4 separate regions of the Homo sapiens genome follow, and all the other regions are reported to be linked to region 3. Evidence: microRNA targets listed by miRTarBase, many of them from high-throughput screens and not tested one by one. Region 3 holds a microRNA gene; each other region holds the end of a gene's coding sequence.

What was found. The annotated mature microRNA hsa-miR-769-5p reads UGAGACCUCUGGGUUCUGAGCU and lies in region 3 at 5,111-5,132, shown strand. An mRNA with a match to its seed (bases 2 to 7 or 8) in the 3' UTR can be bound and repressed. Matches are read on the target gene's strand: a 7mer-m8 pairs with bases 2 to 8, a 7mer-A1 pairs with bases 2 to 7 and ends in A, and an 8mer does both.
Region 1: the mRNA of ARHGEF3 is a reported target of hsa-miR-769-5p. The part of its 3' UTR that is shown has no 7-base or 8-base seed match.
Region 2: miRTarBase lists CRACD as a target of hsa-miR-769-5p. The part of its 3' UTR that is shown has no 7-base or 8-base seed match.
Region 4: the mRNA of KLHL11 is a reported target of hsa-miR-769-5p. Seed matches in the 3' UTR shown: 8mer at 4,739-4,746 and 7mer-A1 at 4,716-4,722.

Annotation. Positions count from the first base shown.
Region 1 is chr3:56,723,370-56,731,162 of GRCh38, forward strand. ARHGEF3 (Rho guanine nucleotide exchange factor 3) reads right to left here. Exons shown (of 10, transcript NM_019555.3): 10 at 4,051-6,253. The coding sequence ends at 5,901. Among named protein-coding and RNA genes, the nearest start is that of TASOR, 44 kb to the left of the region's middle.
Region 2 is chr4:56,326,066-56,333,858 of GRCh38, reverse strand. It overlaps CRACD (capping protein inhibiting regulator of actin dynamics), which reads right to left. Exons shown (of 11, transcript NM_001393381.1): 11 at 3,250-6,215. The coding sequence ends at 6,055. It also overlaps the pseudogene RNA5SP162. Among named protein-coding and RNA genes, the nearest start is that of AASDH, 58 kb to the left of the region's middle.
Region 3 is chr19:46,013,851-46,021,643 of GRCh38, forward strand. MIR769 (microRNA 769) reads left to right here and starts at 5,082; the gene lies at 5,082-5,199. It overlaps CCDC61 (coiled-coil domain containing 61), which reads left to right. Exons shown (of 14, transcript NM_001267723.2): 6 at 1,199-1,409; 7 at 1,495-1,577; 8 at 2,204-2,373; 9 at 2,468-2,543; 10 at 2,844-2,983; 11 at 3,141-3,219; 12 at 3,397-3,454; 13 at 4,228-4,300; 14 at 4,440-4,766. The coding sequence ends at 4,537. PGLYRP1 (peptidoglycan recognition protein 1) reads right to left here. Exons shown (of 3, transcript NM_005091.3): 2 at 5,676-5,797; 3 at 5,303-5,569. The coding sequence ends at 5,388. RefSeq lists silencers at 1,441-1,735, 2,203-2,282, 3,013-3,072.
Region 4 is chr17:41,846,477-41,854,153 of GRCh38, forward strand. It overlaps KLHL11 (kelch like family member 11), which reads right to left. Exons shown (of 2, transcript NM_018143.3): 2 at 2,042-7,677. The coding sequence ends at 7,264. It overlaps KLHL10 (kelch like family member 10), which reads left to right. Exons shown (of 5, transcript NM_152467.5): 4 at 785-934; 5 at 1,457-1,908. The coding sequence ends at 1,831. Among named protein-coding and RNA genes, the nearest start is that of KLHL10, 12 kb to the left of the region's middle.

The sequences.
Region 1 (7,793 bases), not on the chromosome of region 3:
TTTGAGACGGAGTCTCGCTCTGTCGCCAGGCCGGAGTGCAGTGGTGTGATCTCGGCTCACTGCAACCTCCACCTCCCAGGTTCAAGCAATTCTCCTGCCTCAGCCTCCTGAGTAGCTGGGACTATGGGCACGCCACCACACCCAGCTAATTTTTTGTATTTTAAGTAGAAATGGAGTCTCACCATGTCAGCCAGGATGGTCTCGATCTCTTGACTTCGTGATCCGCCCGCCTCAGCCTCCCAAAGTGCTGGGATTACAGGTGGGATTACAGGCATGAGCCACCATGCCTGGCCCATTCTAAGTACTTTGGATGTATTACTACATTGAATCCTCCCCCAAATCCTATTAATTACCATTATTATTCCCAGATAAACAATGAAAGATGAAGGAAAATTCAACTGAACTGTGACATCTTCTGAGAGTTCAGAGAAGACACTGCCTTCATTAAATAAAAATAAGGGTGCTTTAAGTATAGAAAGAATGATAGAAAAACTTATAGTAGAAAAAAAAACTGATGGCAACCCTCTCCTCAAATTAATAGAAGGATCTGAAGACAAAGGTGAGGAAATCTCCTTGAGAGTTGAACAAAATATAAATAAATAAAAAGTAAGAATAAAGAGATTAAGACTATTTGAAAATCAATCCAGAAGTTAAGGCATAAAATCCAGAAGGTTCATCTCTCTTTCTGGAATTCCTGAAAGAGAAAATAGAAAATTGTGGGAATGAAAATATGTAAGAAAAAAAAATACAAGAAAAAATTCCAAATTATCTGGATTGAAAAGTCTCTCCAGGTATATAGTACAACGAATGAAAAAGACCCAGGCCAAGGCCACACTTTTGAGAAATTTCACATGTACGGTTTATTTTTTTTTATTTTTTGAGACAGAGTCTCACTGTGTTACCCAGGCTGGAATGCAGTGGTGCAATCTGTGCTCACTGCAACCTCCACCTCCCAAGTTCAAGTGATTCTCGTGCCTCAGCCTCCTGAGTATCTGGGATTACAGGCGCCTGCCACCATGCCCAGCTAATTTTTCATATTTTTAATAGAGACGGGGTTTCACCATGTTGGCCAGACTGATCTTCAACTCCTGGTCTCAAGTGATCTGCCCTCTTCGGCCTCCCAAAGTGCTGGGATTACAGGCATAAGGCACCATGCCTGGGCAACATGTACAAATTTAAAAGTGATTATTAAATAACAATGAAAACTACTAGCTCTTAGTATCTTTTTAAAAAGTGATTTCACATACAGTCTCACATTTAAATGGGCTTGAAGGGTCCAGTGTCCCTGGCAACAGAGAATAAAACACTTGTAGGATGTCATTTTCAAACCTTTCACAGATGAGAGAGCACAGTTCATTAATACCTAGGTATGTTTGCATGTGGACAAGCTTTGGAATGCATGTCCAGTTTCCTAGGCTAAGTGATTAGCTCTTAAAGATACAGTGCATGACTTCTAATTCCTTGCTATTCCCTCACGTCAACTGAAAACTGCTTTGACTAGGTAGGTCTGTGCAGCTGACTGATATATGAACCAAGCCTGGAGAAAGGAGATATGATGTCATGAGCATTTTTTTTTCCAACTTGTTTCCCTCAATACCCTTCAGGTACAGTGAATACGGTCACCTTTTCTCACTGTGTGCTCATGCGGACAAGGTTTTAAATTTTGATGATTGTCAGATTTTTACTGGTAGGTTTGGGCTTGGGTAACCCTCTTCCCTTCCAATAGTGTAGTTCTAGAATTCTGTCAATAAACAAGCTAGTGTGAATTAATTGAATCAGCTGCATCAATAAGGGGGGGTATTCAGTGTCTTCTCTCCTCAATGCCAAGGGGAACCAGGTGAGTGAAACTGATTGGCCAGACAGTTTCTTTGCCAAATCTTTGAGAGTCCTCAGGCTTTGGGAGAATTAGTAAAAAACGGACATGGACAGAATGTAAATGGAAAGTTGAACAGGCTCTTCACCAAGATGGTGGGTTGCAGTTTCCTGCAGCCACACAGTCTTTGTTGAAACAGGGCTGTGGTTATGAAGAGTTGTGCATTCTTAGCTGCCGCAGACTGTGCTGGGAATGGAAACTAAAGCAGTCAGTGGCGGTGACCACAACCCAGAAGCTGAAACCATGCTCTAATTTTACAGAAAATTGCTAGTTCTGGCTCTGTTCATTGCTTATGAGTTTTCATTTAGACTGCAAGGATTACATCTAGTTGTATGTGAAATAACATCTTGAAAATTGACTGAAGAAAAACCATTTAGCCCTCACTCATTTGTACTAACCCACAAAATGTCAGTACAAACATCTTCTAATATACTGTAAGATACATCCTTTAGCATTGACAGTCAGTACAATTATAGGAGTGAAAAACAGAGGGAATAGCCAAAGCAGCAGTGAGAAAAGAGGACGGACAAAAAAGATGAGGAGGAGGAGGAAGAAAAAAATTAGGAGAAGCGACTTTGCATTTGGGAAAAAATTTGGACTTATATTTATTTATGTGAATATCTTGCCAAATTTGGGAATTAACAGTATGTTAAAGAAAATGGTGAGAGCTGGCCGGGCGTGGTGGCTCAGGCCTGTAATCCCAGCACTTTGGGAGGCCGAGGCAGGCAGATCACAAGGTCAGGAGATCGAGACCATCCTGGCTAACACGGTGAAACCCCGTCTCTACTAAAAATACAAAAAATTAGCCGGGCGTGGCAGCGTGCGCCTGTAGTCCCAGCTACCTGGGAGGCTGAGGCAGAAGGATGGCATGAACCCAGGAGGTGGAGCTTGCAGTGAGCTGAGATCGCACCACTGCACTCCAGCCTGGGTGACAGAGCGAGACTGTCTCAAAAAAAAAAAAAAAAAAAAAAGAAAAAGAAAAAAAAGAAAATGGTGAGAGCTTATTGTAAAGATAAGACTAACTACCAGCCTTATTGGGCCAATGTGCTATTGAGAATTGGCTACTAACAGCTTAAAAATGTTTAGCCTTTTCATCTAAAAAACCTCACTCATTGTGGGACAGAGTACTAATCTTTTTTTTCTTTTTTGAGATAGGTTCTCACTCTGTCACCCAGGCTGGAGTGCAATGGTGTGATCACAGCTCACTGCAACCTCTGCCTCCTAGGCTCAAGGGATCCTCCCGACTCAGCCTCCTGAGTAGCTGGGACTATAGGCACATGCCATCAAGCCTGGCTAATTTTTGTGCTTTTGTAGAGATGAGGTTTTGCCATGTTGCCTAGGCTGGTCTTGAACTCCTGGGCTCAAGTAATTCACCTGCCTTGGCCTCCCAAACTGCTAGGATTAGAGGTATAGCCACTGTGCTCAGACTAGAAAGAGTACTAATCATTTTAATTAAAGTAGACTGAAATTCCAGTAAGAATTTCAAAGTGAAATTTGCCTTCTTTTATTTAGCCTCAAGTTCCTCAACAGTTACCTATATTAGCAGTGAGATTCAACATTTCTTTTCTATAACAACTATGACTTACCACTTGACTTTATACATAGTATGGATTCCAGATAGAGTTATTAAAAGTGAACACATAAATAAGTGAATGAATAGAGAATGCTTGAGAAAACAGATTTTAGAATTATGAGTTCTTGGACAGACTCAGAGGCTTACGCCTGTAATCCCAACACTTTAGGAGGTTGTGGCAGAAGGATCACTTGAGGCCAGGAGTTCAGGACCAGCCTAGGCAGCATAGTGAAACTTCAATCTTTACAAAAAATTTAAAAATTAGCCAGATGTGGTGGTGTGTACCTGTAATCCCAGTTACTTGGGAGGCTGAGGCAGGAGGATTGCATAAGCCCAGGAATTTGAGGCTGCAGTGAGCTATGATCACACCACCACACTCCAGCCTGGGTGACAGAGTGAGATCCTGTTTCAAAAGAAAGAAAGAAAAAAAAAATGAGTTCTGTGAAAGTTTTGATAGATCAAATAAAAGCATTTGTATCAATCTGCATCCTATTTTAAAGTTTGTATTCAGGAACCACAAACAAAAATTTCAGAAAGAACCTCCCCAGGAACACAGCTGAAACCTGTATTTTGTTTGTAGGACAAACACTGTACACATGGAGGATGACTTAATAATGTAATTTATTTGAAATACTTCCAGAAAAGTTTAAGGCCATTATACAAAAACATTCATTTCATCAAAACATTCATTGACCACCTTCCCATAGGCCAACACTTGACAAACCTCTTTTCCCAACACACTGGCTGATGGCTTCTAAAAGTGGCTGATGGCGCCTACAAAGAATCATTCATTCTTTTCTTCACCAATAAAGGCTGTTCTTGGCTTTCCTCTGCTTCTGTCTGCAGCAGGTTCACTTGCTGTATCAATAACGACTTGAGAAAGCAGTTTTAAATAAACTTGTAATAGAAAAAATTCATCATGTTTAAGACCTATAAATACAGAAATATGTTTTACAGGGTAAAATTGATCACAATATCCTTGTTTTCAAAAAATAATAAAGTATATACCTTGTTTTTATATTGATATATCTTGTCACACAGCTTGAATGCACATGATATATGTACATAATAAAATGACATCAATGCATTTACTGCTTTCTTTTCTGTAAACTTGAAAGACAGATTAAAAAAAACTTTTTGGCAATAATTTAGAATAATTACCACTAGTGCTGGTGTGGGTATAATTTTGCACAGGTCATCCTTAATATTTACACTTGCAGGGAGCTCTTCTAGGTACTTAGCTGTTTTTAAGGTCTGCACTTTACCCTGCACTGTAAATCAAGGCTGGACAAAGAGGTTACTAATCTGGCTAGCTGATTCTAATTAATCAGAGTTAATGAAATTGGCCTCTGGAGAACATAATTACAATTCTGATTATAGCACAGAACCAGAGATGGCAAATTGACGACCCAAAAGCAGAGCAGGAAAGCCCAAAGCTCTGGCCTTTCTCAGAAGGCACTGGACCATGCTTTTCTCTCAATGGCTCCCACAGAAGGTTCTGACGAAGTGCTTTTCATTCCAAATTCTTCCTCTCCTGTGTTTCTATAAACAGTGTCATCGATAGAGTCATGGTCTCTCTTCCTTGTTGCTTCATTCATTCTCTAAAATAATGAGTAGGCCTAGGCAGATGAAACACAATGAATACAGGGCCTTCTTGTTATCCTGGCAGGCCTTCCTAAGCCCTTTGGGTTCTATTCTGATGTTTTAGGCTAGCAACCAACTATGAGAGACACCTCCTGGTGCCATGTGCATTTCAGTTAAAGATTCAGAGCTGGCAGCCGCTTCTGTCCTGGCCCTTTTAAGGTCAGCCTCTATTTTATGTCCTAATACATTCTTGCATCAAACTTGCACTGGATGAAGTTGCAAAGTTCAGACAATGCATCCTCCTTTGCAAAATTAAGCCTTCAGAATCCCCAGGGATGTTTTCAAGCTTTCTAGTTGAGTAAGATCAAACCAAGTTCACTTCATGAGTTGGTCTTTCCTGATTCTCTCTCTAATACCATCCCAATACACAGATGAGTTCCTCATGCCCTATTTACAAGGCCGTCTAAATTCCGTGCCTTTAGCTACCACATCTAAGAGCTGGGAAAGTGGTACAGAAGCACAAGAGGAAGGACTCTTCAAACAATCTATGTAAAACAGTAGTTTTGAGATTCTTTTTCTATTTTTTTAAAATCCAGCAGGACAACTGAAAGTAACTTGTTTGAGTACCTCTCCATCCATCCAGACACTTGGGAAATACAACACAGGGTAATAGTTGCCACAGATTCCAGCTTACACAGACAGATTGGCAGTTACAGTACTAGGGACAAAGGTACAGATACGAGAGACTGGGCCAACATGTATACTTTCACAAAAGTATGAAAAAGTGCTTCTCCAAACCGTTCCATCTGTGGAATGCAAATACTGTACAGGTAAGATGCAGGCCTGCTTCCCGAAGTGCACATGCTTCTGTCAGACGTTACTTTCACCGTGCCTGCTGTTTCCACAGGAAGAGTCTGTCTGTTCCATGCGCTCACAGTCGAGGCTGACCTCACTCGTGTCCATACTACAGTCTGACTCACTGTCCGATTGGTCCATCTGCTCAAGTTTTGTTTCTCCCTGTAGCTCTCTGCTCCCGGTGGTGGGATTTAGGAACGATCCCTCGGAGTCAAGCACCCCAGCTTGCCCGGCAGCACACAAAACTGTTTCTTTGGCTTGACGAATACAGTTAAGCCACTGCTGTTTGTTGAAAGTGTCATTGGCTTGTAGCGAGTGGGTCTGACTTTGGGATCCATTTTTGAAACTGACTCTGAAGAAGTTTTTAACTAGAAAGGAAAAACACATGAAAAACAAAGTCAATGGACAGATCCTTCCTCAGGCCAAAGAGAACACACGTAGTGACACTAAACCCCAGAATCCATGGCAGGTATTGCTGATAACAAAACGTTTCCCACTGATCTGGGGCATGGCTCAGCTCCACCCTGCAGCCACCATCAGGGAGATGGGATTGACACAGGTCTAGCGTTCAGCTGCCCTCGTCGCTCTCAGAAACCCGCAGGTGGAGATCATCTTGGAACCACAAAGTCAAGTGATTTAGGGGAGCCCAGAGTACTGGTGACCCAATCTGGCTGCATAACAAAATCCCTTGGGGTGAGAGCTTGTTAAAAAGACAGATGCGCTCAGAGGCTGAAGTGGGAGCACTGCTTGAGTCTAGGATTTTGAGATCAGCCTGAGCAATATAGTGACGCCTTTTCTCAAAAAATAAAAATAAATCAATAAAAATAAATCCCCAGGCCCTTTTTTAGAGATTCTGATTCAGAAGATCTAAAAGTCGTTTCATAATCTGTAATTTCAACAAGTACACCAAGCTGGAGCTTTTTTCAGTTTAAGAGGCTCTTTTTAACATTAAAACATGCCCATGTTTCTCCATATGAGAGTATCTATACACTTAGTATCCAATGATGGAGAAGATATATGTAGACAAATTTGGTTTCATTGTCAAACGAAATTACATTTTAATTACCTCAACAGGAGCCATCTGCATTTAAAAAAAAATGGTAGTCCACAATATGGAAGACATTTTATTTAATCTTTTTTTTTTTTTTTTTTTGAGACAGAGTCTTGCTCTGGAGTGCAGTGACACAATCTCCGCTCACTGCAACCTCTGCCTCCTGGGTTCAAGCAATTCTCCTGTCTCAGCCTCCTGAGTAGCTGGGATTACAGGCATGCACCACCATGCCTGGCTGATTTTTGTATTTTTTTTAGTAGAGACAGGGTTTTGCCATGTTGGCTAGGCTGGTCTCGAACTCCTGACCTCAGGTGATCCACCCACCTCAGCCTCCCAAAAAGATGGGACTATAGGCGTGAGCCACCGTGCCTGGCCTATTTAATCTAATAACAACAATATAATGGACATTTAAAGGGCCCTGCGTGCCACATGCAATGCTTGGTTCACAGAAGCATCTGCAGTCAGTCCCTTTGCACTAACCCTGCAGCCAGTAGACTGGGAACCACCACCACTTCCAATGGCTTAGAGGCTAAGCAACAGAGGGAAAGGAGGCCAAAATGTTTTACTGCTAGCCATCTTTGGCTAGAAGCTATTCTCCGTCCTTCAAATTTAGGCTCCACCCTTTGATCTTGGGCAAGTACCTTAAATCCTCTGTATCTTAGTTTCTAACTTGTAAAATGGAGAAAACAAGAACCTACTTTATATGGTTGTTATGAGGAATAAATGTAATACATGTAAATGCTTATACAATGCCTGGCACATAGTCAGTACTCAAGAAACATAAGCTCTTATTTCTACTACTCCTACTCCTAGGGTAGAGGGATTGATCAGTAGGGAGAAGGCAGTACATGTTAATT
Region 2 (7,793 bases), not on the chromosome of region 3:
AGCCGAATTCTACCAGAGGTACAAGGAGGAACTGGTACCATTCCTTCTGAAACTATTCTAATCAATAGAAAAAGAGGGAATCCTCCCTAACTCATTTTATGAGGCCAGCATCATCCTGATAGCAAAGCCTGGCAGAGACACAACCAAAAAAGAGAATTTTAGACCAATATCCTTGATGAACATTGATGCAAAAATCCTCAGTAAAATACTGGCAAACTGAATCCAGCAGCACATCAACAAGCTTATCCACCATGAACAAGTGGGCTTCATCCCTGGGATGCAAGGCTGGTTCAATATACGCAAATCAATAAACATAATCCAGCATATAAACAGAACCAAAGACAAAAACCACATGATTATCTCAATAGATGCAGAAAAGGCCTTTGACAAAATTCAACAACCCTTCATGCTAAAAACTCTCAATAAATTAGGTATTGATGGGACATATCTCAAAATAATAAGAGCTATCTATGACAAACCCACAGCCAATATCATACTGAATGGACAAAAACTGGAAGCATTCCCTTTGAAAACTGGCACAAGACAGGGATGCCCTCTCTCACCACTCCTATTCAACATAGTGTTGGAAGTTCTGGTCAGGGCAATTAGGCAGGAGAAGGAAATAAAGGGTATTCAATTAGGAAAAGAGGAAGTCAAATTGCCCCTGTTTGCAGATGACATGATTGTATGTCTAGAAAACCCTATTGTCTCAGCCCAAAATCTCCTTAAGCTGATAAGCAACTTCAGCAAAGTCTCAGGATACAAAATCGATGTACAAAAATCACAAGCATTCTTATACACCAATAACAGACAGCCAAATCATGAGTGAACTCCCACTCACAATTGCTTCAAAGAGAATAAAATACCTAGGAATCCAACTTACAAGGGAGGTGAAGGACCTCTTCAAGGAGAACTACAAACCACTGCTCAATGAAATAAAAGAGGATACAAACAAATGGAAGAACATTCCATGCTCATGGGTAGGAAGAATCAATATCGTGAAAATGGCCATACTGCCCAAGGTAATTTATAGATTCAATGCCATCCCCATCAAGCTACCAATGACTTCTTCACAGAATTGGAAAAAACTACTTTAAAGTTCATATGGAACCAAAAAAGAGCCCGCATCACCAAGTCAATCCTAAGCCAAAAGAACAAAGCTGGAGGCATCACGCTACCTGACTTCAAACTATACTACAAGGCTACAGTAACCAAAGCAGCATGGTACTGGTACCAAAACAGAGATATAGATCAATGGAACAGAACAGAGCCCTCAGAAATAATGCCACATATCTACAACTATCTGATCTTTGACAAACCTGAGAAAAACAAGCAATGGGGAAAGGATTCCCTATTTAATAAATGGTGCTGGGAAGACTGGCTAGCCATATGTAGAAAGCTGAAACTGGATCCCTTCCTTACACCTTATACAAAAATTAATTCAAGATGGATTAAAGACTTAAACGTTAGACCTAAAACCATAAAAACCCTAGAAGAAAACCTAGGCATTACCATTCAGGACATAGGCATGGGCAAGGACTTCATGTCTAAAACACCAAAAGCCATGGCAACAAAAGCCAAAATTGACAAATGGGATCTAATCAAACTAAAGAGCTTCTGCACAGCAAAAGAAACTACCATCAGAGTGAACAGGCAACTTACAAAATGGGAGAAAATTTTCACAACCTACTTATCTGACAAAGGGCTAATATCCAGAATCTACAATGAACTCAAACAAATTTACAAGAAAAAAACAAACAACCTCATCAAAAAGTGGGCAAAGGACATGAACAGACACCTCTCAAAAGAAGACATTTATGCAGCCAAAAAACACATGAAAAAATGCTCACCATCACTGGCCATCAGAGAAATGCAAATCAAAACCACAATGAGATACCATCTCACACGAGTTAGAATGGCAATCATTAAAAAGTCAGGAAACAACAGGTGCTGGAGAGGATGTGGAGAAATAGGAACACTTTTACACTGTTGGTGGGACTGTAAACTAGTTCAACCATTGTGGAAGTCAGTGTGGCGATTCCTCAGGGATCTAGAACTAGAAATACCATTTGACCCAGCCATCCCATTACTGGGTATATACCCAAAGGCCTATAAATCATGCTGCTATAAAGACACATGCACACGTATGTTTATTGCGGCACTATTCGCAATAGTAAAGACTTGGAAGCAACCCAAATGTCCAACAATGATAGACTAGATTAAGAAAATGTGGCACATATACACCATGGAATACTATGCAGCCATACAAAATGATGAGTTCATGTCCTTTGTAGGGACACGGATGAAATTGGAAATCATCATTCTCAGTAAACTGTCGGAAGGACAAAAAACCAAACACTGCATGTTCTCACTCATAGGTGAGAATTGAACAATGAGAACACAAGGACACAGGAAGGGGAACATCACACTCTGGGGACTGTTGTGGGGTGGGGGGAGGGGGGAGGGATAGCATTAGGAGATATACCTAATGCTAAATGACGAGTTAATGGGTGCAGCACACCAGCATGGCACATGTATACATATGTAACTAACCTGCACACTGTGCACATGTACCCTAAAACTTAAAGTATAATAATAATAAAATTAAATTAAAAAAAAAAAAAGCTAAGTAGGGTCAAGCCTGGTTAGTACTTAGATGGGAGACCTCCTTGGAATACTAAGTGCCGTAGGTTTAAGAAAAATATGCAAAATATTTTAAAAATAAATAAAATTAAATCAAGTTATACATACTAAAAAAAATTTGATCTTTTGCTCATCTTGCAATGGGTTTTTTTTTTTGCATTAATTTTGATTTTTTTAAAATACTGCATCAAAATAGTATTTCTCTTGATTACTTAGTTTTCTGGAAGCCAAGGCAAGTGCTCACATGCCTAACTCACTTTTCATTTCACCAGGGTCTGGCCCTTTAAGTCAGTATGTCTGATGTGTGGCCATAAGCTGCAATTCTCACGTGCTCTCAGCTGCTGCTTCTGCTGCTGCTGCTGGTGAGTAGCCCATGCTGTGAGGTGGCTGTACAATCCTTTTGTCTGAGACCCAGACCATTCAATTCCAATTTAGGATTGAGACAAACATTTTATTTGCCCCCGTTCATTATTTTTCTCTAAAAATACCTAGGAAAAAAATGTAATAAAACAGTTTAAAGTTGTTCTTGTTCAACAAAAGTTATGTAAATATAATGAGATTGTTTTGCAGTTGGTCATCGAAATCAAATTCCATCAGTGCCGAAGATCTCGTGGGTATTTTTTATTGAAAGATCTTTTCCCTTCAATAATGGACATTTTACATTAAAACTTTATACAACTAAAATATGCAAATTATATTAAAATCACACTAAGGTATTTTCATTAAGTCTCTACTTTACTGTTGGTAAAAATATTGTAAGACACTTGTAACTAATGTTTCTGCTTTAAAATAAGCAATTAAACTAAACGTCACAAGAAGAGACAATACATACTATATATTTGCAGATAACTGGCTAAATGATAATTTAATAGTAATAATGTCTGTGTAAGAAACAATTGCACTTGAAAAATTAAAAAAGTAAACAAAAAACCCTCTAGTTTTATATATAAGTCTATGAACAGAGGTTAATCATCTATAACCTTGCCAGGAGAAGTGTATGTTTGTTTAAATAAAAAAAAAAAAAAGTTTGCATTTAACATAGTGATCATTCATTTAAAAAAAAAGTCTTGAACTTTTTATATGTTTTTACAGAATTCCCCATAGTTTGTTGCTCAGAAGACTACTAAAGCAAAATAACACTTCATTGGTATTTAGTGCAAATTTGGGGTGATTTTGAAATGAAATGTTAAACATGTACCCTTTAGAAGCTGTTAGAAGTAAGTATTGTGACTGCCCTTTCTTCAGTATACTCTTCTTTTAAAGACTTTGATGGAAAAATTTTAACTGAGGTATTTCGCCTGTTTTGTTTGGGCACAGTGATATCCCAGCCAATACAAAGTTGACACATCTACAACTTTTTGTAACTGATCTTAGTTCCCCACCTGTTCCCTGCCATAATTGGGATATTGTCCAAAGCTGACAGGATGAAAGAAAAAGTCAATTCAGAAGAATTACTGTAGCATTATCATTCCAGGGCTGTAGGTGGAAAGATTCCCATTAAAAAGTGTTATATTAGTGAGGAAATCATTGGAACTAACAAATGCCTACATATAAGATTTAGAAATGAACATTAGTATGGAAGACGTGCAGTGAAATACTAATTGCTTGCCATAGCAATAAAAAAAGGTTACATTGATTTTTAACAGTCTGAAGGTCCAGTATATATGATATTAAATCCAACTTGCAAGAGTACAACTATCCACTTGACCACACATGCCAGCTGCTACAGTGAGGCTGAGCTATTGTTTCTAGAAAGAAAATGGTTTCTACATGGTAAATAACTTTGCCATCATCCTTTATTTAAGGTACATGGTAGAATAACAGCACATTGCATATTGAGCGAGCATAAAGGAAAGTAATGATGGATACTTAATAAAGCATGTTTTTGTAGGAGAGGAAAAAGGATGTAATTCCCTCTGCACAGAGCAAAGGATGTGTACCTATATTTCGGAGTAAGAATCTAAGAAAAGGGGAATATGCCAACACTATGAAATATAAGGTTAGCACCAGCAATATGTGAGTTTGCCAGTATGTCTGTTTCATGTAAATTTAGGGCAATAAAAGTGAATATATGTGGCTTTTAAACTGCCAAGTCCCTTCTTTGTATGCACATGTGTATGATGATAAAAAGGCCACTTAAAACTCAGATGTTTTTTAAAGGTAGCAAGGTGAATGCTCAAAATTAGAAATGCTACTGGACATGTGACTCTAAATATGAATTACTCAATTATAGTAAAGAAAAGACTTTCTGCAGGAAGTCCTTATTACAAAGGCTCCAAATCTTGGCTTCCTGTTTATTTTCCCTAAAGACCAAAGGGAATTTTCAAACATGTAATGTCAATAACCTGTTGCTTCTTGTAATAAATGGCTGGCTTGGGGGGTTGTTTTATTATTTTTCCTGTCTCACTGTTGCTTTTTGAGTGAATGAGCCTCCCCTTCGAAGTCTGAAAAATTAGATTGCATTAGGATCAGTGTTTCTCACAGTTCTTAACCTTTGGGATCTATCAGAACTGACCTGAAGAGTTTTTGCCAGAATACATATTCCTGGCCCAGTCCCCACAGGCTCTGATTGAGTAGGCCCTAGGAGGGAGCCTACACATCATAAGAACTACTGCCCTAGATGGAGATTCTCAGAGACAGAAAGTGAACTTGTAGCTCTGATCTAGAATTGTCTTTCTTCACTACATTAAATTAAAATGTTCCCTGGGAGCCAACTGGGCCAAATGCTTCACATGTCCTTAAGGAGGGTATTGGAATAACAGGGCCCCACACTATGAATCCACAGTGCGGTAAAAATGTGAATGGATGTGCCTTCTGGGTTACAGCTTCAGAGTGGGGAAAACTCATGAAAACTAAGATGGGCACAGTTGGGTGCCAGAATGTTCCTTGTGATTCCCAATTACTCACTGCATTCAGGAGAATGGGTGTTCTTGCTTTTAGCTAGATATGATCCTTTCACCATTACTGTAGAAAGGATAAACATTCCCAGACATATGGTAGAGTAAATGTTTTGGACAAAGAAAATTAGTGCATAGAATCAAAAAACCATTACCAAAGGTTGGCAAAAGTACATGTTCTGAATGGTGTGTGGGTGGGTGTGTGTGCAAGGCCATGAAATGGGCATGGCAGGCTCTCACGAGTTCTTAGCTTAGAGATTTTGCTTCATGTGGTCCTGTGGACGGAATTTTCTCTTGAGAACTAGGAGGAGCTCGAGGCACCAGGACCTAGGGTTGTGCAAATCCACTCTTTACAATGAACACCACCAGTTCAGTTTCTAAACATTATTTTGGAGCCTATAAAACATGCTTCTTTTCCCTAGCTTGATTTCTTTACCCCATATAAAAAATAAATAAATAAAAAGGGCAAGAGAGGAGCCAATAACTGGCAGTAGGGATGGGTGAGAGTCACTCTTTACTTAATAATCTGTGGACAGTCGCTCCAAGCCTTTGCTTTCCTTTTGGCCAAAGCCAGCCAGGCTGGTTCTGTTGACACGGGGGCAGCATCCGGGGTGGAAAACCTCTTGGTGACTTCTTTTACCAGCGGCGCTGGGGGAGCCGAGTCGGAGATCTCCACTGGATTTTGTTTTGAAGGAAAAGGAAAAAGTAAGTTCACAGCCACACTACAAATTTTCTTTTTAATTAACAGATGATAAACTATGTATTTATCATGACAAACTGTATTTGTCATGTACAACATTGTTTTGAAATATGTATACATTGTGAAATAGCTAAATCTAACTAATTAAAATATACAAAACCTCACAGTTATCATTTTTATGGTGAGAGCATTTAAAATCTACTCTCTTAGGTCTCTTGAACTTATTCCTCTTATCTAACTGAAATTTTGTATCCTTTGATGAACATCTCTCCAACACCCCCCACCCCAGCCATATTTTGATTTATCAGAAGTGTGAGACTGAAAAAAGAAAACCCAGTGAAACACAGAGAGGCAAATTCCTGGACTCCCTCAGTGAGGAGAATGAAGGAAAGCAAGCTATGTGTTTATATCTCTTGCACACAGAATTACAACAACCAAAGTAGTCAGTTCTAATTTCAAAGAATTTCCAGAAGCCTAATCTATATAAAGAAGCTATGCCTGCATGATAACCAGTCAATTCCATGAAGAAAAAGATCAACCCAGCCGACTGGATCTGGTGAGGTTAAAAGCTACCTTCCTGGCCAGGCGTGGTGGATCACGCCTGTAATCTCAGCACTTTGGGAGGTCAAGGAGGGAGGATCACTTGAGGTCAGGAGTTCGAGACCAGCCTGGCCAACATGGTGAAACCCTGTCTCTACTAAAAATACAAAAAGTAGCCAGGCTTGTTGGCAGGTGTCTGTAATCCCAGCAACTTGGGAGGTTGAGGCAGGAGAATCACTTGAACCCTGCAGGCAGAGGTTGCAGTGAATCGACATCGCACCACTGCACTCCAGCATGGGTGACAGAGAGAGACTCTGCTTCAAAAAAAAAAAAAAAAGCTACCGTCCCCACAAAAGCATCCACTGGGTGCCTCTACCTCTGAGTCTCACAGATCCTGCCAGCTCCCATGACTTTCATCCTTGTCTCACAGTTCTTTGCACCGTATCACTTTATCAGAGTGTATAGGCTTCTTAATGTGAGAGGGTGCTTGTCTTATCTTTGAGTCATAAATAGTGCCTATGGCAATGGCTTACACATATGCTTCTAGAACTCAGGAAATACTGACTGAGAAGACAAATACTTCAGAACAAAGACTTGCTTTATTAAGCTAGAGCCACTCTTGAGTTGCATTAATCCTTTAGTACTTCTGAGAAATCAGGCAGAGAAAGATTTGACCTCTTTGACTTTGGGGCTTTCACTTTATTTTGAAAGAAACTCATTCTCTCTCTTTTTCTCACTCTTTCTCTTTCTGGTTCTAACAGGTAGAACCCTTAATTCCTATAAGTAAAATCAAATGACATAATGCCTGCCTGCGGTTCTTAAGAAATTACACAGCATTCTAAAGTGGTTTTCAAATATAAAGCTTTGGGCCAGGCATGGTGGCTCACGCCTTTAATCCCAGCACTTTGGGAGGCCGAGGTGGGCGGATCACTTGAGGTCAGGAGTTCGAGATTAGCCTGGCCAACATGGTGAAACCCTGTCTCTGCTAAAAATACAAAAATTAGCTGGGTGTG
Region 3 (7,793 bases):
GCAAGACTCCGTCTCAGAAAAAAAAAAAAAAAGATTTCTTTGCAGTTCTTTTTGGCCTTAGGCTATATCCCGCTTGCTCAAACGATGTGTTTTAGTCACCTCCTATAATTCTCCAATGTGCCACCAACTTTGATATAGAGTTAGGTCTGTTTGGGCCAGTTTCTTTTAAAATTTTTGTGATGGCATTTGTTAAAATTTAATTAATTAATTTGTATAAAATATTTTTATAGTTCCAAAACTGAAAAAGAGGGTACATTCAGAGAGGTCCAATTTCTTACATTTTTTAAAAAATTATTTTTACTTCTGGTTTTCTTATTTTTTTGAGATGTGATCCACCTGCCTCGGCCTCCCAAAGTGCTGAGATTACAGGCATGAGCCACTTTGTCCAGCCAGAGAAGTCCAATTTCTGTTCATTTTCCCCTTCCCCATAAATAATCCTTTTTTCCCCCATAGATTTTGGTTTATTCTGTAATTTTGAAAATATAAACATATAATTTATAATTCTCATTTCTTTTATGAAAAGGGACATTCTGAACATACTGTCTGCACCGCACTGTGTCACAGCAGTCACTCGGTGACAGGACACAGAGATACTCTACTTTCCTCTTTATAGTTTTGTGGGACTCAATTGAGTAGATGTATTAGAAATTCAATTAGTTCTCTTTTAACATACATTTTGGTTATTTCCACTCTTTTGCTATTACAGATTGTGCTGCAATGAATAGCCTTGTGTATACATTTTCTCAAGGAAGGGTTTTGAGCATGGTAGTTACCTGATCAAATTTGTATTGTAGAGGATTTCGTGACTGGGAGACTGGCCTGGCGAGGTGGGAGGAGGAGGGAGGCAGTGCTAGGCTTTCAGGGTGTGTACAGATTGATGAAATCGTTTAGAATTGGAACTCACATGGCTGTGTTCCCACTCCTTCACCCGCACCAGGGGGAGGAGTGTGTGTGTGTGTCCTGTGCGTGGTGGGGTCATGTCCTCTTCGTGAGGTGCATGGGGGTGATGTGACCACATCCCTCCTCACACGTCGCAGGGGATATGATAGGACCCTGCCCCTCCCCATGGGGTCAGTTGAGACTGATGAGCCGTGTACCCCCTTCCGGGGAGGTGAAATGATGAGGCGTCCCACCCCCATGGAGTAGTGGGAATGGGGCCATGCCTCTCTCTCCAGCGCTCTCTCCGCGTCTTCCCCAGGGTGTCGCGCCTGGCGTCCGAGAAGCGGGAGCTGGAGGCGCAGCTGGGCCGATCGCGCGAGGAGGCGCTGGCCGGGCGCGCGGCACGCCAGGAGGCCGAGGCGCTGCGCGGGCTGGTGCGCGGGCTGGAGCTGGAGCTGCGGCAGGAGCGCGGCCTCGGGCACAGGGTGGCCGGCCGTCGCGGCCAGGACTGCCGCCGTCTGGCCAAGGAGGTGAGCAGCGGGGGCCCGGGGCGGCCAGCGAGGCGCGGACCTCGGCCTCAGCCTGGACCTCCGCGCCCCTCTCCCCTCCCGGCAGCTCGAGGAGGCGAAGGCATCGGAGCGGAGCCTGCGCGCCCGGCTGAAGACGCTGACCAGCGAGCTGGCATTGTACAAGAGGGGGTGAGAGCGAGGCCTGCCAGGCGCCTGGGCGGATGGGCGGGCCCTGAGGGTGTGGAGGCTGATGAGGCGGAGCCTAAGGGGGCGGGGCGGGGCCAGGTAGGGTGGAGGGGGCGGGGCTGAAGGGGAGGCGGGGCTTAGCGGACCCCGTCTGGAGTCCAGACAGGATTTGGGTGCAGTGGTTAGGAGGTGGACCCGGGCTGTGCGGAGATGCGCAGGCTTGGGGCGGCGTTCAGGAGGGACTGGGAAAGGGATCGTGCCCTAGGGTCTCCTGGTGCGAAAGGGTGCGGCGCAGCAGGTGGGATCAGGGTGAGGTCCGCTGGCATTTATGGGGTGGGTGGTGGAAAATTGGAAAGAGTTTCCGGGGAGTTGTGGAAGACTCCGGAAAGAAGGGTCTGTTGAAGGCGGTGTGTTGAAAGGATGTAGGGGAATGACAGAGGGGTGTTTTAGGGGTCCAATTGGGTGAGGTCTGGGGGGGAAGATATCGAGAGGGTCATGGGCCCAGGAGTGCACGTCTAGGAGTTGATGGGGTAGGCCTGAGGGTTCGGAGAAGGTGCGGTCGGGGAGGAGTCTCGCGATTGAGTTTGTCGGGGCGGGCGGGAAGCTGACAGCTGCCTCTGTGGTCTCAGGAGGCGGACTCCGCCGGTGCAGCCGCCCCCGACGCGGGAGGACCGGGCCTCATCGTCCCGGGAGCGCTCCGCGTCGCGAGGCCGCGGCGCCGCGCGCTCCTCATCCCGGGAGAGCGGCCGCGGGAGCCGGGGTCGGGGCCGCCCTGCGCGCCCCTCGCCCTCGCCCACAGGTCTGTGCCCCTGCCCTGCGGTAGGGAGGGGACGCACTGGCGCTGCCAAGGCCCGTCTCCGGACCTAGCCGCCTCCTCTCCCACGCCGTCCTAGGTGGTCGCGCGCTCCGCTTCGACCCCACGGCCTTTGTGAAAGCCAAGGAAAGGAAGCAGAGAGAGATCCAGATGAAGTCAGTGCCCCTTCCTCCCTCACCTGCCCCTGTCCCTGGCCCGTGCCCGCTCCCGGGCTCTCATCTCTCCACGCCACCATCAGTCTCCATCCCCTGCCACCTGCTCGCTTCTCGCCGGATACCCCGCCTGCTCTCCCTTCCGTCCGTCCTACCTCCTCGTCTGTGTTTCTGCGTGCTTTCCGCTCGTAGGCCTGTCACCTCAGGCTTTCGCTGGCGTGGCTGTGACCTTTAGGGGCGCAGTGACCCCCTTGCCTGCAGGAGTTGGGCGTACAGACCGGCGTCTCCTTTCTTTTTTCCCAGGCAGCAGCAGCGGAACCGCTTAGGCAGTGGGGGAAGCGGGGACGGTCCGTCCGTCTCCTGGTCTCGCCAGACCCAGCCCCCTGCTGCCTTGACTGGCCGAGGGGACGCCCCTAACCGCTCCCGAAACCGCAGCTCCTCAGGTAACTGGCCTGGAGCTGGGGGCTGCCGGGCTAGGCGGGACTGGGCGGGGCTGGGCGGGCTGGGAGGCACTGGGCAGGGCGGGCGGGCTGGGAGGGCCTGGGAAGCACTGGGCGGGGCCAGCGAGGGCCAGCGGTCACGCCCTCCGTCTCCCTCTAGTGGACAGTTTCCGCAGCCGCTGCTCGTCTGCCAGCTCCTGCAGCGATTTGGAGGATTTCTCTGAGTCGCTCTCCAGAGGGTAAAACTTGAACTTGGGAAAAGGATCGCCTCCAAAGGGTTTCTGGGGAGACTAGAAACAGTCTTTTGCAGGGAAATTGGGTGATGGAGCCTGGGGGCCTTGAAACCACAAAGGTCGGGGAGGTGGGAAGTACCAGAGCCTCCCCACCACTGGTCCTTGGTTACTCCTTTTTCTCAGGGGTCACCGCCGCCGTGGGAAGCCTCCCAGCCCAACGCCCTGGAGTGGGTCCAATATGGTGAGTAGAAGGGGCAACATAAACCACTGGAACACAGCTGCCCCCATTTCCTGTGATTCCTTCCTGGGGATCAGGTGCAGAGGCGACTCTGAATGCCTTTGGCAATAGGGCTTTTTTAAGAGTGCGTCTCGCTCTTTCAGGCTGGGGTGCAGTGGGGCAATTGTAGCTCACGGCAGCTTTCAACTCCTGGACTCAAGAGACCCTCCCACCTCGGCCTATGGAGTAGCTGGGACTAGGCTTTTTTGGGGGGGCAGGGTGGGGTTGAGACAGGATAAGGGGGTGGTATTGTCTCTTTATGTTGCCCAGGCTGGTCTGGAACTCCTGGCCTCAAGCCATCCTCAGCCTCCTACAGCGCTGGAGTTACAGGCTGGGCCAGCGCACCTGGCCTGGGAACAGCACGTTTTGAGAGCATTAGATTGGAGAAGGAATAATGAGGGGCACGTGATGCTCTTTAGGGCTTTGGCTTCTGACTGTCAGGTCTTGAAACCTGTCTCCTCCTCTTCCCAGCTGTATGGTTCAAGGCAGTTCTTTAGCCTCTCTGTACCTTAGTTTTTGTTTATCAGTTAACCAGGGTTGGTAATGGCATCACCTCACATGTGAGGTGAGGGCTCTGTGAGGACATTAGGAGGTTATTTTGCAGATAATGAATGGCCAGTAGGTGTCAGGCCTTATTTTTCCCCAAGGTCCTTAGGCTCAGGATTTCCAGTGGGATTTAGGGGGACAGAAATAGAGGGACGGTGGGTGACCCCCTTTCCTACCTTCCCCATCACCAGAAGTCTCCCCCCGTGGAACGCAGCCACCATCAGAAATCTCTGGCCAACTCCGGGGGCTGGGTCCCCATCAAAGGTGAGCCTGGGACTCCACATCCCCTCTCCCAGCCCCAGGACCCGTTGGAATGGTAGTGCGGGCAGTGGTATATTGGGCCCAGGAACTCCCTGGGGCTTCAGGCCCCTCACAGCCCCCATACCCACACCTGCTCTCACAGAGTACAGCTCGGAGCACCAGGCGGCTGACATGGCCGAAATAGACGCACGCCTGAAGGCCTTGCAGGAGTACATGAACCGACTGGACATGCGGTCATAACGTGGAGAAGGGGTACTACCCCTCCATCCCCCACCCACTTGCTGGGTATGGTGTGGGGGGTGGGGCCAGGGTGGCCTCCAGCCCTGCCCAGTCCCTGCCCTGGCCCCGTCCCTCCTGCTGCCCCTGGGGTCTCAGGTGTGTGAGGCCCTGACCCTGCCCTCTCCCCAGGCAGTGCATGCTGGGAGGGAGGATGTGTGCATTTTGTAAATAAACATATTTGCCCTGGGGACCCCTCAGCTTATGACTAAAGGGTGAGGGTGGAGTGGGGAGAAATGTGGAGGAAGAGAAATTGGGGGGTATAATTGGGACCTGTGTGTCTGTGCCTCGGAGGCAGATTGGGACTCAGGCCTAGGAAAAGCTTGTACACTCTCTAAACAGTGCAAGGGCAGACCTGGGAGGAGTAGTGAGCAGCCCGTCCCTAAAGGAGTCCAAGCAAAGTTTCTGCGCAGGATGCCTTTGGCTGTGTGGTGGGAAGGAGGTGTCTTGCAGCGTGGTTCACTGCCCAGGAGGACCCCCAGGACCCACTGTTGGTGACATCCCGGCCGCCTTGGTGCTGATTCCTGGGCTCTGACCTGAGACCTCTGGGTTCTGAGCTGTGATGTTGCTCTCGAGCTGGGATCTCCGGGGTCTTGGTTCAGGGCCGGGGCCTCTGGGTTCCAAGCACCAGTGAGGAGAGTGCTGGGAGGGGAAGGGGTGGGAGGGCTTTGGTCTTGTGGGAGGGAGAGAAGGAGGGGAGGTGTGTGGTGGGACCTGCTGAGGAACACATTTTGAGCTACATCTTTATTGGAGAAGGAGACAGTGGGGTTTTTGGCCATGGGAGGGGAGGAATGGGGTGCGGATCAGCAGGGCCTCAGGGGGAGCGGTAGTGTGGCCAATTCTGGATGAGGTGGTAGAGCTGGTTGCCTGGAGAGAGTGTACGCTGCACATCCCGGTGTCCTTTGAGCACATAGTTGGACCTCAGGGCTCCCTGAGCCACACCGCAGGCCAGTAGACCCTGGGCTGCCCGGATGGCCTGGGGTGTGGGCACCCGATCTGGAGGAGGCAGAGGTAGGAGTCAGGCAGGGGCTTCCCCGAAGGGGAAGTGATAGCGTAGGGCCCCGTGTCAGCCCCCATCCCAACTGGCTGGACAGTCACTCACCCATGTAGTTGCCCATGAAGCTGATGCCAATGGACATGGGGTTCCATAAGTGACCTGAGTGGGCACCCGTGAAGTTCCAGCCACGGCCCTCGTATACGAGCCCGTCTTCTCCAATCAGGAAGCTGCATGGGGAGGTGGGGGGGCTTGATGAGTGAGGGAGGGTTTCCCGAGGAGGACTCCTCCTCCTTCCTCCACTCACCCTGCCTCCGTTACTGCCGTGGTGCACACAACTTCCCCAGCATCCTTCTCACCCGTTAATTTCCCACGATAGTAACAATGACTGTGGTCATTTATTGGGCCCCTGCCATGTGCCAAGCACAGCTCTGCATACACCTTTTTCCATCCTCACAGCAACCCTGTGAGTCACTATCACCCCCGTTTTATATAGACAGAATCAGAGCGGTAGAATCACCTGCCCCGGGGTCACACAGCCTGTCTGGGGCACAGCTGGGGTTTTTAACCAGGCCTCCATGGTCCCCACCCATGTGATCTTGTGCGTTGCTCTCTCCTGCCTCCCTAGAGGATTTGTGGAAGTCCTGTTTTACTGAATCCTTGCAGGACAGCCCTCTGAGGCAGAGACTTTTTTTTTTTTTTTTTTTTAAGACGGGGTTTCACTCTTGTTGCTCAGGCTGGAGTGCAGTGGCGTGATCTCAGCTCACCGCAACCTCTGCCTCCTGGGTTCAAGTGATTCTCGTGCCTCAGCCTCCTGAGTACCTGGGATTACAAGCATGAGCCACCACACCCGGCTAATTTTTGTATTATTAGTAGAGATGGGGTTTCACCATGTTGGCCAGGCTGGTCTCGAACTCCCGACCTCAGGTGATCTGCCCGCCTTTGGCCTCCCAAAGTGCTGGGATTACAAGCATGAGTCACCGTGCCCAGCCAAGGCAGGGACTCTTATCATCCTCATCTTAAGCAGAGAGAGCAGAGACTCAGAAAGCGACATAATTTGTACAAGCTACTCAGAGCCCCCTGCCTCTCAGAACTCTGCCTTTGCCCCAGCTTGCTTCCTGCCCTCGGGGTCCACTGGGGGACAGGATCACAGACTCAAAGTTGGGGTCGTAACCAGATACCGACCCTGGAGCCCCAGCACCTGCCTCTTTGAGGTTCCCAAGCCTGGCAGCAGATCCTTAAGGCTGATTCATTCAGCACATCTGATTGAGCGTGTCTGACTTGGCAAATGGGAATGAACTAGAAGATCAGTGCCTTGGAGCTGCAGTATGTGCCAACTCAGCCCCCGCGCTCACAGTGTCATTAATGACGCACAGAATGTCGGAACTTCCGAATCTTGAGTCCCGAATCTGCTGCTTAGGAAGCCAGCTCCCAGAATCTGGCCCCAGTGATGCTGGCTGCTGGGACTGGCTGGTTATGGCCCTGCTGGTGATGCTGGCTGCTGGGACTGGCTGGTTATGGCCCTGCCATATTCCCGGAGCCTGGCATGATGGTGCTGGGGTCGGGGGTGGTTGGTTCTCCCTGGTCATTTGTTGCATGAATGCATCTCATTGAAACCTCAGCCACCATCGCCAAGCGGGTACAGTCAGAAGCCCCATTTACAGGTGAAGAAACGAGGCTCAGAGAGAGAAGGTGACGTGACATGGAAAGGGGATTCAGAACGTTAGAACCAGATTCGGAATCCTAAAAGCTGAGGGCCAGACAGCGGCTGCTTCTGTATGTGGTGATGTGGACCCGAGGCTCGGGCCTTCGTGACCTCATGGGAACACTTAGGATCAGAGCGCCTGAGTCTTGGAAACAAAATGTTGAAGTTGGAGTCTTTGATAAAATCTTGAACTGGAAGGGCTGGGAATACCTTTGGACACTTCTAGACTTCTCTGGGTGGGTTTTGTGTGTGTGTGTGTGTGAGACACAGCCTTAGGAGGTCCTGAGAACATGTGTCCCCTGGGTGGGGTCTATTGAAGTGGTCTCTGGGGACCTGCATGTTCCTCCAATAAGCTCTGCAGGAGATTCTGATGCTTACCTGGGTCTGAGAGCCTGCAGGATTGAAAGTTCCCTCCCTGTGGAAACCGTCAGGCTGGACTGCAGCCCATTCTAAGGAGGAGGTAGCTGGTAGGCGTGGCCCCGGACCTGCTTCAGCCTGCTTCAGCCGGCACCCCTTACAGT
Region 4 (7,677 bases), not on the chromosome of region 3:
CAGTGCTCCAAGATTGCGCCACTGCACTCCAGCCTGATGACAGAGCAAGACTCCGTCTCCAAAAAAAAAAAAAAGTAATGTGTAATGTGGCAGAGCCCAGTGTCTTGTGTTTGTAATCTCAGCACTTTGGGAGGCCAAGGTGGGCGGATCACTTGAGGTCAGGAGTTTGAGACCAACCTGGCCAACATGGTGAAACCCGGTCTCTACTAAAAATACAAAAATTAGCCAGGCACAGTGGCACACACCTGTAATTTCAGCTACTCAGGAGGTGGAGGTTGTAGTGAGCCGGGATAGCTCCACTGCACTCCAGCCCAGGCAACAGAGTGAGACTCCATCTCAAAAAATAAAAATAAATAGGCTGGGCACAGTGTATCATGCCTGTAATCCTAGCACTTTGGGAGGCTGAGAGGGGCGGATTGCCTTAACTCAGGAGTTCGAGACCAGCCTGGACAACACGGTGAAACCTCGTCTCTACTAAAATACAAAAAATTAGCGGAGCGTGGCAGTGTGCGCCTGTAGTCCCAGCTACTCCAGATGCTGAGGCAGGAGAATTGTTAGAACCCAGGAGGCGGAGTGAGCAGAGATGGTGCAAATGGACTCCAGCCTGGGTGACAGAGCGAGACTCTGTCTCTAAAAAATAAATAAAAAGCAATGCATGCACATACAAAAAAAAGAAATTCAGACTGTACAGACTGGAATTAAGTGCCCACTACCACCACACACATATCCTTTCTTTCTACTCCCTAGAGTGGGAATTTTAATAATCTTGGAACTCTTCACACAGGTCTACATATGTGGTGGGTTTAATGGAAACGAGTGCCTGTTCACAGCAGAAGTGTATAACACTGAAAGTAATCAGTGGACAGTCATAGCACCCATGAGAAGCAGGAGGAGTGGAATAGGCGTGATTGCTTATGGAGAACATGTATATGCGGTAAGTTTATCTAGTACCACACACACACAAAAAACACATTACCCCTAGATTTTGTATTAGTAAATGGGTTTATGCTACTATTGGTAAGTATTTGAAAAGCTTTTTTTTTTTTTGAGATGGAGTCTCGCTCTGTTGCCCAGGCTGTACTGCAGTGGCAGGATCTCGGCTCACTGCAAGCTCTGCCTCCCGGGTTCATGCCATTCTCCTGCCTCAGCCTCCCGAGCAGCTGGGACTACCGGCACCCGCCACCATGCCCAGCTAATTTTTTGTATTTTTAGTAGAGACAGGGTTTCACTGTGTTAGCCCAGATGGTCTCGATCTCCTGACTTTGTGATCCACCCGCCTCGGCCTCCCAGAGTGCTGGGATTACAGGCGTGAGCCACTGCACCCGGCTGAAAAGCTTTTTTTCATGGAAGATAATGGAAGAGGGAGTTATGAGATCACTGGTACCCCCAACAAGGGCTTCCTCAGTGAACAGAATCAATGGTTAGCAGTCAACCGTGTTTCTTTTGCTATCCACAGGTAGGTGGCTTTGATGGAGCTAATCGACTTAGGAGTGCCGAAGCCTACAGCCCTGTGGCTAACACTTGGCGCACAATCCCCACTATGTTTAATCCTCGTAGCAATTTTGGCATCGAGGTGGTGGATGACCTCTTGTTTGTGGTGGGTGGCTTTAATGGTTTTACCACCACCTTTAATGTTGAGTGCTATGATGAAAAGACCGATGAGTGGTATGATGCTCATGACATGAGTATATACCGCAGTGCTCTGAGCTGCTGTGTAGTACCAGGGCTGGCCAATGTTGAGGAATATGCAGCTAGACGGGACAACTTCCCAGGATTAGCACTGCGAGATGAAGTAAAATATTCTGCTTCGACAAGTACCCTACCTGTATGAGCCTCTTCATTTAGCTAATAAAAAGTCTAAGCAATAAGAATTAATTCTTTTTTTAAAAAAATGCAGTGTTTAAACTTTGAAGAGTACTGGAAAATGTTCAACTTAAGAGAGCCAATGGCTGGATGAATGAGGGAGTAGGAGGGATGGAAGAAAGCAATTATATCCGACAGTGCATAAATAAGAAAAAAAAGTCACACAGTACAAACCAGCTTTAAAGAAATATGTTTATTTAAAACTTACACTGAGACAATTAGTAGCTTTAACAGAGAACAAGATAGCTTCAGGAACATAAAACAAGCTATTTTACAATGTCATGTCTCAAGGTGTTCTAAATGCTACATCTCCTCTGAGTTAAGGGGAGATAGTGAAGATTATATTTTCAGTAGAGTAGGGACCTGGATACTACTAGTCCAAAAAACTTACTGCATCAACTCAAACTAAATGTTTATTTTACAAATAACTCAACGAGCCCAAGCACACGGATCATAAAATCTTCAAACACCTAGCAAGCACTACTTTTCACGAGTGCATTATGCAGGAGGACTAAGTTAACAAGTGCTCTGCAGTCTGTGCTTCAATGTAAGACATTCGTAGTGATGGTCACTGAGTAAGATAAAAAGCCCTACAAGTGTAATAAACAAACCGCAGTGATTTTGCTATCTAATTAAATTACTTGAAGCAAAATGACTACTAGGTTATATTACTGTTATTATATTACATCACCCAACTATGAGCTGTTCTGTTTCCAATGACCAGAACATACGGTACAATAACAAAAACAAAAAATGGACTATTCTCAAGAAAGTAACAAACTGGAGTGATGAACTGTGCCAAAATGTTTGAGAGACTGAATTGTTTCTCAAATATTTTGCAGTTAAAGCACCCTCTGGTGTAGACAGAGTACTTGGTTTACAGTAATGTACAACACTTTCAAAGACATGAAATGTGGCCCGTATACTATATTTAAACTTAATTTGAGAAAAGTATCAAAAAAGAAGTCCCTTTAGTTATGCTTGATTAGACCAAATAACTAAAATATACAAATCAGCTCTCCTGTCTACATACAGTATAGTGTTGACTTTAGAATTACAAAGCAGAAAATGAAATATTTTAAACATACCACATGCTACACTAGTCAAGAGGTAAGGAGGAAAAGTGAGCCCTAGAAACTGCCTTACCAGCAGCCTGACGGGTTTAAAAAACACAAAAGCACACAAATCTTCCATAAACACTATCTTTCCAGCTTCAAACTTCTGTTTTATATTAAAAAGGTATATTTAAATTTTTTGGTCCCAGAAATACTATATAAAACCGGGTGATCAAAACAAAACTTATGTCATGAATTTTAAGAGTTTTTAGCAAAAAAGATATTTTTGAACTGGCACAGCAAAAGCAAAGTTGAACATCATGATACACAAGACTAATCATGCAAACAACTGTAAGTGGGATGTGTTACTTAAACACTAAGCTCATGACTGACATTCTCAATATATACCACTGATTTTTTTAAGCCATGGTGGGGTAGATATAGTTCAAGGATACCCATTCTAAGATATAAGTAGCCTCACTCAAAGTTACATATACTATTACTTTTTGGTATAATAACTTCCTCTCTCTTCTACAAACAAAAGCAAAAGCAACAAAACAAAGGTTTGCTTGAATACGCATTAAGCTGTCTTTCTAAAGTCATGTTTTTAACTGCTTACATTACCAAAAACAATATTTTAAGTTTTCTCATCAAAAAGGAAATTTCTTTCCCAAGGAGCTATTTTAGGCCTGATCCTTGTACTTAGAACCTTTCCAAATACTCTGGGAAGTTATTTCCAGTTTAGAATTTCAGAATGTCAGCCTTGAACAGATTTAAGCAAATCTGGTTTCTTTCCTTATTAACAAGTTAGTTAGGATATTTCAGAAACACAAGTTATTGATGTGAAATTACACATGTGAATTCAAAAATAAAAATTAGAAAATCAGGAAAACCTGCACACATCATCATGCAATGAAGGACTTACCCCTTCTTTTCAGCCATGGCCTAGGCTGCCTGCTAAGTTAAAAAACAACAGTTTCAATCAAGGTTTTAAAACCAGATTATGCCTAAATCTTATGAGTTATAATTTCTGTCACATGATGTGAAAAAAACACAACCCCACAAATGACTTGGTAATAATTATCTCAGAAGACAACTCTGAGAACAAAAAACAAAAAACACATCACACCCTTCCAGTTAAAAACTATTATCGTAGTGAGATACTAAATTATTTAAATACAATCAAGAAAACGAAGTTTGCTAGCACAGTCTGTTGGAGAGAAATGAGAACTTCATTTAGTGAGCTTCATTTAATGATTCTGTCTTACTTGCATAGACCTATCACAGCTAAGAATTAGTGCTTCTCAGAATCCAAATGGCTTTTACTAAAATAACTACAAAGAAATAGAAATTGAGAAAAAGGTAGTGGTGGGATGGGACAATATAATAATATATCCTTATATGTAGAAATAGACTTGCAGTTTCTCACGCCCACTCCAGTCTAAATTAAATGGATTTAAAGTTGATTTTCAACACATTTATTAAAAACTTTTCACCTAGGCAGGGATACTAATTTAAAAATTTCAAGTTCTTAGTATAGAGCCCAAGACCTACAACTTGCAGCAAATAGCCAAAATTTCTGGTTGTGCTTTTCTCTTTTGGTATTTGATCACTAACAAGAAGATTAACTATAATGGACTAGGGAAAAAAAAAATCACTGCACTTGGAATTTGACTTCTAGAATGGTATGACAAAATGTCTAAGAAGGTAAAGACAGTTCTTAAGAAACAGGATAAATCATTGGACAGGTGGCTCTTTGGGAGGCCAAGGTGGGAGGATTGCTTGAGGAAAGGAGCTTGAGACCAGCCTGGCCAATAAGGTGAGACCTCACATCTTAAAAAACCAAAACAACAACAAAAACAAGAAAACCACATTGTAAACTGTTAGGAATCCTTTATATTAACTGAGCATTAAGAGTAAATTTGAGGGCTGGGCATGGTGGCTCATGCCTGTAATCCCAGCGCTTTGAGAGGCTGAGGTGGGCGGATCACGAGGTCAGGAGTTCGAGACCAGCCTAACCAACATGGTGAAACCCCATCTCTATTAAAAATACAAAAATTAGCCGGGCGTGGTGGTACACACCTGCAATCCCAGCTACTCAGCAGGCTGAGGCAGGAGAATCACATGAACCCGGGAGGTGGAGGTTGCAGTGAGCTGAGACTGCGCAACTGCACTCCAGCCAGGGCGACAAAGCGTGACTGTTTCAAAAAAAAAAAAAAAAGTTATTTTGAGGCCGGGCGTGGTGGCTCACACCTAATCCTAGCACCCTGGGAGGCTGATACGGGTGGATCTCCTGAGCCCAGGAGTTGGAGACCAGCCTCGGCAACATGGAGAAACCCCATCTCTACCAAAAATACAAAAAAAAAATTAGCTGGGCGTGGTGGCGCGTGCCCATAGTCCCAGCTACTCCGTATGCTGAGGTGGCAGGATGGCTTGCATCCAGGAGGTGGAGGTTGTAGTGAGCCGAGATCATACCACTGTACTCCAACCTGGGTGACAAAGTGGGACCCCATCCCCTGGCCCAAAAAAAAAAAAAAGTCAATTTGAGTGCTAACTTTTATAAAGCTCAGGAGACATAAGATAATTCGAATAACGTATAAAACTAAATAAAAGATAGCTTCAGTGATCTTTTTAATTTTTATTTGAGACACCGTCTCTCTGTCACCCAAGGTAGAGTGGCATGATCACAGCTCATTTCAGCCTCAACCTTCCCAGGCTCTGGTGATCCTCCCACCTTGGCTTCAAGTAGGAAGGACTACAGGCACGTGCCAGCTACCACACTCAGCTAATTTTTCTACTTTTTGTAGAGACAGGATCTTGCTATGTTTCCCAGGCTGGTCTTGAACTCTTGGGCTCAAAATCTGCCCACCTCAGCCTCCTCCAAAGTGTTGGGATTACAGTCATGAGCCACCGTGCCCAGCCCATAAACCTTTAAAAGCCAAAATTATGTACCCAAATTTGGTATCCTAGGCTCAGGCAAAGTTTGAAAGTGTGGGGCAACTGGATAAAATATAACAATCAGAAATAATAAGGCTTCTCTTTAGCAACATTTCTCTAAATTGTGACTTCCTTCCCATTTTGGAAAAAAACAGTTTCTTGTAGAAAAGAATAATGGACTGGGCACGGTGGCTCATGCCTGTAATCCCAGCACTTTGGGAGGCTGAGGCGGGCGTATCACCTGAGGTCAGGAGTTCAAGACCAGCCTGGTCAACATGGTGAAACCCTGTCTCTACTAAAAGCACAAAAATTAGCCAGGCGTGATGGTGGGTACCTGTAATCCCAGCTACTCGGGATGCTGAGGCAAGAGAATCACTCGAACCTGGCAGGCAGAGGTTGCAGTGAGCCGAGATTGCACCACTGCACTCCAGCCTGGGCAACATGAGCAAAAAAAAAAAAAAAAAGAGAAAAGGAATAATGAAGATTCTATATAATATGCATTAGAGCAAAAATTAAAATGGAAGGCATTGAGTGTCGATTGTCATAGGCATTATTTACACTCATTAACATATCCTCAAATAATCCTGCAACTCCTGAAAAAAATGTTGAAAAAATTTTAAATGCCTTTGATTTCCCAGTCTACACTAATACTTTTCTTCTTAGAGAAACAAAGTTCACACATGTAACTTGCTCTGTATTTAGTCAATTAGCTAAAGATCTATACTTTTGCCAACTACCGTCACCTCAGATTGAAGGCTTAAAGTCTATAAACAGCTGCTAATGAAAAATATTCAAAAAATGCATGAGCCAGTAAAAAATTTCTCATCAGTCACATCTTCTAGGAAGGAAACTGGCATTTCTAGATAAACATAAGAAAATATCAATGCAAACATTCTCAAATTATCTTGCTGAAATATTGAGTGTTTTCATTCAAATTTCAGTCTCACTATTGCACATGCCTCCTGCAGATGAGGGCTCAATGCAGAAGTCAGATCTTGCCAAAACCAATCATTTAATAAAAAATGAAAAAGAATATCAAAGTAAATGTGCAAATAAAATTGGTGCTTAAAGCATGTTCAAAACGTAAGTCCTCAAGACAAAGGAGTCATAACTCGTTGGCAGGAAAACAGCTAAGCAACTACACCTGATTTTTCCACTTGTCCTTAATAAGATCTTATTTAGCTAGCACAAACAAACAAACCAAAGACAAAAATTGCAAGCTAACAAAATGACCATGTATTGAACTGAGTCTCCCATTCTTTAGTTTTTAACTCTATTTCCTTTATATGGGGTAATAATCAGTTCATGTAGAAAATAAGTTATCGACATACTTTTTTAAATAACAGCCTGGGTATCTTCAGCTTCACGAAACGGGTGTAACAGTTTTAATCGGCACGCTTGAGAGAACCTAGCATTCAATCTGAGAGCTTGGCACTCGCCTCATGTTCAGGGCGTGACGATGTATCTCTTGCATCTGTCTGATGCGGTCCTTCTGCCACATCAGGTTTTGAGGCATAGGGTATCTCTGTGTGCCATGCAAGTACCGGTATGGGATCCTCACGTGACAAGCAGTGGCTCTACAACGAGGTTGTGGCATAGGAGGAAGAAGCATCCACCTCTTCCTCTCCGCACAATATCGGTAGGCTTCTTTCCGATACTGTTTATCAATATCATCACTGTTTTTCCAGCCTCCTATAATGAAGACATCATCTTTGTAATAGCAAATGGCTGCTCCTTCGATGCTTAGGACTTCTGGAGGCAAGCTTTCAAGGATCTCATCAGACACTTGGCTGGCAATTTTTCTTACTGCCTCTTCGTTTTC